2 linked regions of the Homo sapiens genome follow. The protein of the gene in region 1 interacts with the protein of each later gene in a pairwise test. Each region holds a gene or a part of one and is shown on either strand. Other genes may lie near its edges.

Region 1 (3,500 bases):
ACCTGCCACCCGCTTCCATTCTCAAACTTGGAGAGGAGTGAGAAGGAGTGGCCAACTTGGAAAATCTGACAGTGAGTTGGAAGTGGATTCCTGCGGTGGCTGCCCCCGCTCCCCACCACGCCCCGTCAATGTCACCTTCAAAGTCAACTGTGCCGTCTCCATTAACATCAGCCTCCCGGACAACCTCAGAGATCTCCCGGGGGGTGAGCCGCTCCCCCAGGAGTCTCTGCATGGCCTGCTGTAGCTCCACCAGGGTGATCTCCCCATCTCCATTCGTGTCAAACTGAATAGAAGCAGAAATAGATTATATCAGCAATGACAATGATGATAGCCACGAGATGATGGAGTTTACCTATCGCTTACTGTGGGTCAAGCACTGAGATAAAAGCTTTGGGAATGTGAGCCACTAGAACGTCAGCTCCAAAAGACAGTTTTGTTCTGTTTTTTTTTTTCTTTTTTTCTTTCTTTTTTTTTTTTTTTTTATTTGAGACAGTCTCACCCTGTCACCCAGGCTGAAGTGCAGTGGTGCAATCTCAGCTCACTGCAGCCTTCACCTCCTGGATTCAAGCGATTCTCGTCCCTCAGCCTCCCGAGTAGCTGGGATTACAGGCGCGCACCACCAAACCTGTTTAATATTTGTATTTTTAGTAGAGACAGGGTTTCACCATGTTGGCCAGGCTGATCTTGAACTCCTGACCTCAGTTGATCCACCTGCCTCAGCCTCCTAAAGTGCTGAGATTACAGGCTTGAGCCACTGTGCCCGGCCGAAACTTTTTTTTAATGAGACGGGGTCTCACTATTTTGGCCAGGTTGGTCTTAAAATCTTGGCCTTAAGCAACCCTTCCACCTTGTCCTTCCAAAGTGCTAGGCTTACAGTCCTGAGCCAAAGTGCCCAGCGATACATTTAAAACTTACTTTTTAGGTGATTTTTGAAACATACATTATTATTTACTATAGTTATCCTGCTGTGCAATAGATCTCAAAAGTTATTCCTCCTGTCTAACCAAAACTTTGTACCCTTTGACAAGCAACTGTCCATTCCTTCTCTGTGGCTCCCCAGCCTCTGCTAACCACCTTTCTTTTTATTTGCATGAGTTCAATTTTTTAAGATTCTGCATGTAACATCATGTGGTATTTGTCCTTTTGTGCCTGGCTTATATAGCTTAGAATAATGTGCTTCATGTTTATTCATGTTGTTGTAAATGATAGAGTTTCCTTCTTTTTAAAAGCTGAATATGCCGGACTCAGTGGCTCATGCCTGTAATCCCAGCACTTTGGGAGGCCAAGGCGGGTGGATCACCTGAGGTCAGGAGTTCGAGACCAGCCTGACCAACATGGAGAAACTCCGTCTTTACTAAAAATACAAAATTAGCCAGGCGTGGTGGCGCATGCCTGTAGTCCCGGCTACTCGAGAGGCTGAGGCAGGAGAATCGCTTGAACCTGGGAGGTGGAGGTTGTGGTGAGCCAAGATTGTGCCATTCTACTCCAGCCTGGGCAACAAGAGCAAAACTGTCTCAAAAAAAGAGAAAGAAAATTTTAAATGACCCATGCTGCTTACATTGTATTTATTTTGGATGACACAGCTGTAGGCTGAGGAAGCTGCAAGTTAACAAGTGCCGTAAGGCAGGAAGGTGTACTTGAGGAAGAGGCAGAAGTGGGGAGTGTTTAGGGAGGCGTGAGCTGGGGAGAAATGAGCATGAAATAGACAAGGTCTCAGTGTTGCAGAAGGCAGGGCCCAAGTACGTAGGGGCTTGTGTGTCATGGGACGTTGTCAGGATTTGGTTCTGAGTAAGACAAGAAGCCACTGGAGAATTTTAAGCAGGGGAGTGACCAGATCTGATATACATTTTAAAAGAATGTGAGCATGAAACCCTGTTGTGTAGAGAACAGACCACAGTAGGACCACGATGGGAGCCAGGAAACCAATTAGAGGGCCGCCATGATCATCCTGGTAGGAGATGGTTGTGGTTTGAGCCAGTTAGCACCAGCAGAGCTCAAGAAGGAGAGTTCACTCCCCGATGTTTTGGAAATTGAACGTACTAGACTTTCTGGTAGACTAGTTAAGGGTGTGCAGGGCAGAGCTTTGGAGGCAGTTCATTAATTCAACACATATGTATCCATATTGCTAAAAAAAAATGTGTCAGTAGTGCCCATGTGGAAGGCACCGTTCTTGGGACTGAGCACGGAGCAGCAAGCAAGACACTTAGAAATACTTGTCTTCTGTACCTGGCTTATTTCACCCAGCATACTGTCCTCCAGGTTCATTTGTGTTGTTGTGTGGGGCAGGATTTCCTTCTTTTGTAAGGCTGAATATTGCATTTAAATATATACCACGCAGAAGGAGAAATACTGCATGATTCCACTTACATATGAAGTACTTAAAATAACCACACTCATAGAAGCAGAGAGTAGAAGGATAGTTGCTGGGGGTTAGGAGGACAGGGAAATGGGGAGATATTGTACCATGGGTATAAAGTTTCAGTTACGCAAGATAGGTTCTAGAGATCTGCTGTGTGGCATTGTGCCTATAATTAATAATACTGCATAATGACAAATATTGCTTTTAATGGCAAAATCACAATTACTTTTGCATCAATCTAATAACTATGGGCAAAAGACGTGAACAGCCATCTCTCTAAAGAGGACAAATGGGCAAAAGACGTGAACAGCCATCTCTCTAAAGAAGACAAATGGGCAAAAGACGTGAACAGCTATCTCTCTAAAGAAGACAGACAAATGGCAAACAAGTTCGTGAAAAAAATGCTCAGCATCACTAATCATTTGGGAAATTTAAATTAAAACCACAATGAAATATCACCTCACATCTGTTAGGATGGCTACTGTTAAAAAGATGAATAATAACAAGTGTTGGTGAGGATGTGGATAAAAGGGAACCCTGGTACACTTTTGCTGGGTATGGAAATTAGCACAGCTATTATGGAAAATGGTATGGAGGTTCCTTAGAAAATTAAACCTAGAGCTGCCATATGACCCAGCAATACCACTTCTGGGTATGTATCTAAAGTAATTGAAATCAGTATATCAAAGGGATGTTTGCACTCCCCTGCTCATGGCAGCACTATTCACAATAGCCAAGGTATGGAAGCAACCTGTGTCCATCAAAACAGAAGAGTGGATAAAGAAAACATGGCATAAGTACACAATGGAATACTATTCAGCTTTTTTTTTTTTTTTTTTTTTTTTTTGAGGTGGAGTTTCGCTCTTTTTACCCAGGCTGGAGTGCAGTGGTGCGATCTTGGCTCACTGCAACCTCTGCCTCCCGGGTTCAAGCGATTCTTCTGCCTCAGCCTCCTGAGTACTTGGGATTACACGCATGTACCACCACGCCTAGCTAATTTTGTATTTTTAGTAGAGACGGGGTTTCTCCATGTTGGTCAGGCTGGTCTCAAACTCCCGACCTCAGGTGATCCACCCACCTCAGCCTCCCAAAGTGCTGGGATTACAGGCATGAGCCACTGCACCTGGCCTTAAAATTTTCT
Region 2 (3,500 bases), on another chromosome or scaffold:
CCACCTTGTGACTCTCCCACATGGATTAGCTGTAGCACAACTTGCTTGCTTTCTTTTTTTATTTTTTTGAGACAGGGTCTCGCTCTGTCACCCAGGCTGGAGTACAGTGGCGTGATCATGGCTCACTACAGCCCTGCCTTCCAGTGATGCTCCCACCTCAGCCTCTTAAGTAGCTGGAACCACAGGTGTGTGCCACCATGCCTGGCTAATTTTTGTATTTTTGGTAGAGACGGGGTTTTGCCATGTTGCCCAGGCTGGTCTCAAACTCCCAGCCTCAAGCCATCTGCCTGCCTTGGCCCCTCAAAGTGCTGGGATTACAGGCATGAGCCACCATGCCCAGTAGACACAACTTTCAACCTGGGCTGAAAGACTTCAATTTGCTAAATCTAAGATTCACTCCTGATCCCTTTATTACATCTCTAGGCCGTTTGAAACTACTGCTCCTGTCCATTCTTGAAACTTTCTAACTTCCAGGACGTCTCTCCTGAGTGTCCTCGTCTGCACTCCCTTCTAGCCAGTCCACCAGGCTCACACTAAATGAATCTGCTCCTGTAAGCGCTGCAACAGTAAAACCGATACGGTGAGCGTGGAACCCAAGCTAAGCCAATCAGATTGTCCTTCTAGAGAATTTGGAATTGGGAAGTGGGAAGTGGAAAGACTGGGTCTGTGATGTGAGCTGGCAGAAGTTAGAGTTTCAGAATGGCCTTCCAGAGTGACCACCTGGGGTCACGTGTTATTTACTGCCAAGCGAGAGAAGAGATTAGGGGGAGGGCAGGCACACATAGAAGCATAGGGCAGACACACAGTGAGCAGGAGAAGCCTGGGAGATGAAGGCAAAGAGCACAGCCACACTGACTGCCACCAACTTCCCAGCGACTGGGCCCCAACCTCTGATGAAGACATCTACCTTCCTCTCTAATGACTTCTGTTACCTTGGCAGGCACTTTCTCCGCTACCTTTTCTCCACTTGTCCTTCAAGGTACCCATGCTCCAGCCATACTATTAACAGCCAGGTGGGCACTCACACATGGATGAAAGGGCACCACTCTGCCTATTTCCTGGCCTGCCCCTACGTGGAAGGGACCAGTTTACCAAGATGAAGAGAAATCACTCCCAGAAGTCAGGTGTACTCTGACAACAGGATGACTGACAAAAGGACCACTAATGCCCAGAGGAACCTCCACCACCCACTCAGAGAGGCAAGAGTCTACCCAATGAACCCCAAAGACAATCATGGTATTATCTGAAGTCGAGGTCATGCAGTCTCAAATAATTCTATGTGAAAAATATCAATGGTCCAGTCTATCTAGACAGATATGCCCCAATTTACAGAAGTACAACTATATTGCAAGAAAAATTTACCATGTAGAAATATTGATTTTAATACCATAGCTATGTATAGTATCTAGTCATTCTTACAGCAAAACATGTGTACTGTAAAATTATTCTTTGTAAATCCTCTTCGTGACACACCTATGTGTCCTATAAGACCTTCAAACTCAAGTACATCCAAAACTGAATCAGTCACTTCCTCACCAAAGCCTACTATATTCCTGTCTTAATCTGTTTTCTATTGCTTACAAGAGAATACCTGAAACTGGATAATTTATGAAGAAATTTATCTCTTACAGTTATGGAGGCTGAAAAAGCCCAGGACCACATCTGGTGACAGCTCTCCTGCTGGTGGGGACTCTCCAAAGAGCCCTGAGCCGGCACAGGGCATCACACGATGAGAGGGGGCTGAGCATGTTAACATGCTGTCTCAGATCTCTTTTCTTTTTATAAAGCCCCCAGGTCCCCTCCCATGACAACCCATTAATCTATGAATGGCTCTGCCCTCATGAGCCAAACCTCTGAAAGGCCCCACCTCTCAACACTGTCACATTGGGGATTAAGTTTCAACATGAGTTTTGGAGGGGACAAATATTCAAACCATAGCCAATTCCCAACTATAGTAAATGAGTCCACTCTCCCCTCAATTGCCCAAGTCAATATCATTGACTTCCCCCCATCACAAAGGTCTAGCCACTCTCTTCCAAATACCTCTGGAAACTCTCCACTGTGTACCTGCATTGTCTCAACTTAACTCAAGCCACCATCATCTTCCCTGGAATTCTACAAAAGCCTCCAGTCTTGCTTCCCTCTAATCCATTATCTACTCTAATGTAACCTTCTAAAATGCAAAATGGATTGTTCTTACCCTACTCACAAGTTTTCAATGGGTCCCAATCATTTTCAGTGTAAATTCCAAATTTATTCATTGGCTTTAACCAAAAAAAAAAGTGCTCATGTCTATTTGCCATGTAGCTATCATGTCCCAGATATACTTTGTTAAATCAAATGTTCCATCATACATGTAATACAGGTACATGTAATCTTGGCAAATACAAAAAAGATTATTTAAATCACCCGACATCCTACCGAATTCCACAATTCTTAAGATTTCCATCTAATTTCTTCTACATATTTTTGCCATTCATAGGTTTTACTGGAAGGCTGCTGGGACTTTTTTTGGGGCGTTTTCATCATATCAGGTATACAATTGTGTATCCTGATTTCCTTCCACTTAACACTATCATAAGCATTTTAATATATTTTCTTCATAAACGTTTTTAATGGCAATGTTATTTGCCACTAAATATATGATATAGGGGATGTATCATAACCATTCTGCAAACTGTGCCCATAAATATAATTCTACAATATACATATTTTGTGCAGAAAGCTTTTCTCTGTATTTAAAAATATTCTTTTGATGGTTCCTAGACCATCAAGAAATGTAAATAATTTTAAGACTCTTGACACATATGGCCAATGTAACATAAGAGTGTGTCATTTTTACCACATCCTTTTAGGTACTAGGCACTGTATATTTTTGTCTAAATCTAGACCTTCATGAAATTGGTGAGAAATTGTAACATCTTCCTTACAAAAGTAAATGCCCATTGTAAAAAAAACTGAAGCAATGCAAACACATGTGATATGAAAAACCAGTCTCCCCTAGGCTTTTCCCATGAAGTAATCAGAATTAAATGTTTTCAGGTATTCTAGTCTTTTTCTAATTCTTATTCAGAATATATATATATACACACACTCACCCTTCATTATTTTGTTTTGTATCTTACAAAAAATGAGATTAAGCTTGCTTTTTTGGCTCAACAGTATATTCTAGACATCCATACAGGCTATGTCAGTACATACAAATCTACCTCTCTATATAAAAAACTAATAGGCTAGACATGGTGGCTCATGCCTGTAATCCCAACACTTTGGGAGGCCAAGGCGGGAGGATCACTTGAGGCCAGGAGTTCAAGACTGGCCTGGGTAACGTGGTGAGACTCCGTCTCTACAAAAAAAATTTAAAAATCAGCCAGGTGTAGTGGTGTGTGTGTGTGTGTGTGGTCCCAGCTACTTGAGAGGCTGAGGCAGATCACTTGAGCCCAGGAGGCTGAGGCTACACTGAACCACATTCCGTACCACTGCACTCCAGCCTAGGCAAC

What was found. Proteins that work in one complex are often made in the same cells at the same time.
Region 2: the proteins of CABP5 (region 1) and ZNF664 interact in binary tests that used the Homo sapiens proteins (3 or more experiments, as listed by UniProt).

Annotation. Positions count from the first base shown.
Region 1 is NC_000019.10:48,034,080-48,037,579, forward strand, and holds part of CABP5 (calcium-binding protein 5), read right to left. Parts: intron 284-3,500; coding exon 136-283; intron 1-135. UniProt on the Homo sapiens protein: Inhibits calcium-dependent inactivation of L-type calcium channel and shifts voltage dependence of activation to more depolarized membrane potentials. Involved in the transmission of light signals.
Region 2 is NC_000012.12:123,979,715-123,983,214, reverse strand, and holds part of ZNF664 (zinc finger protein 664), read right to left. Parts: intron 1-3,500. UniProt on the Homo sapiens protein: May be involved in transcriptional regulation.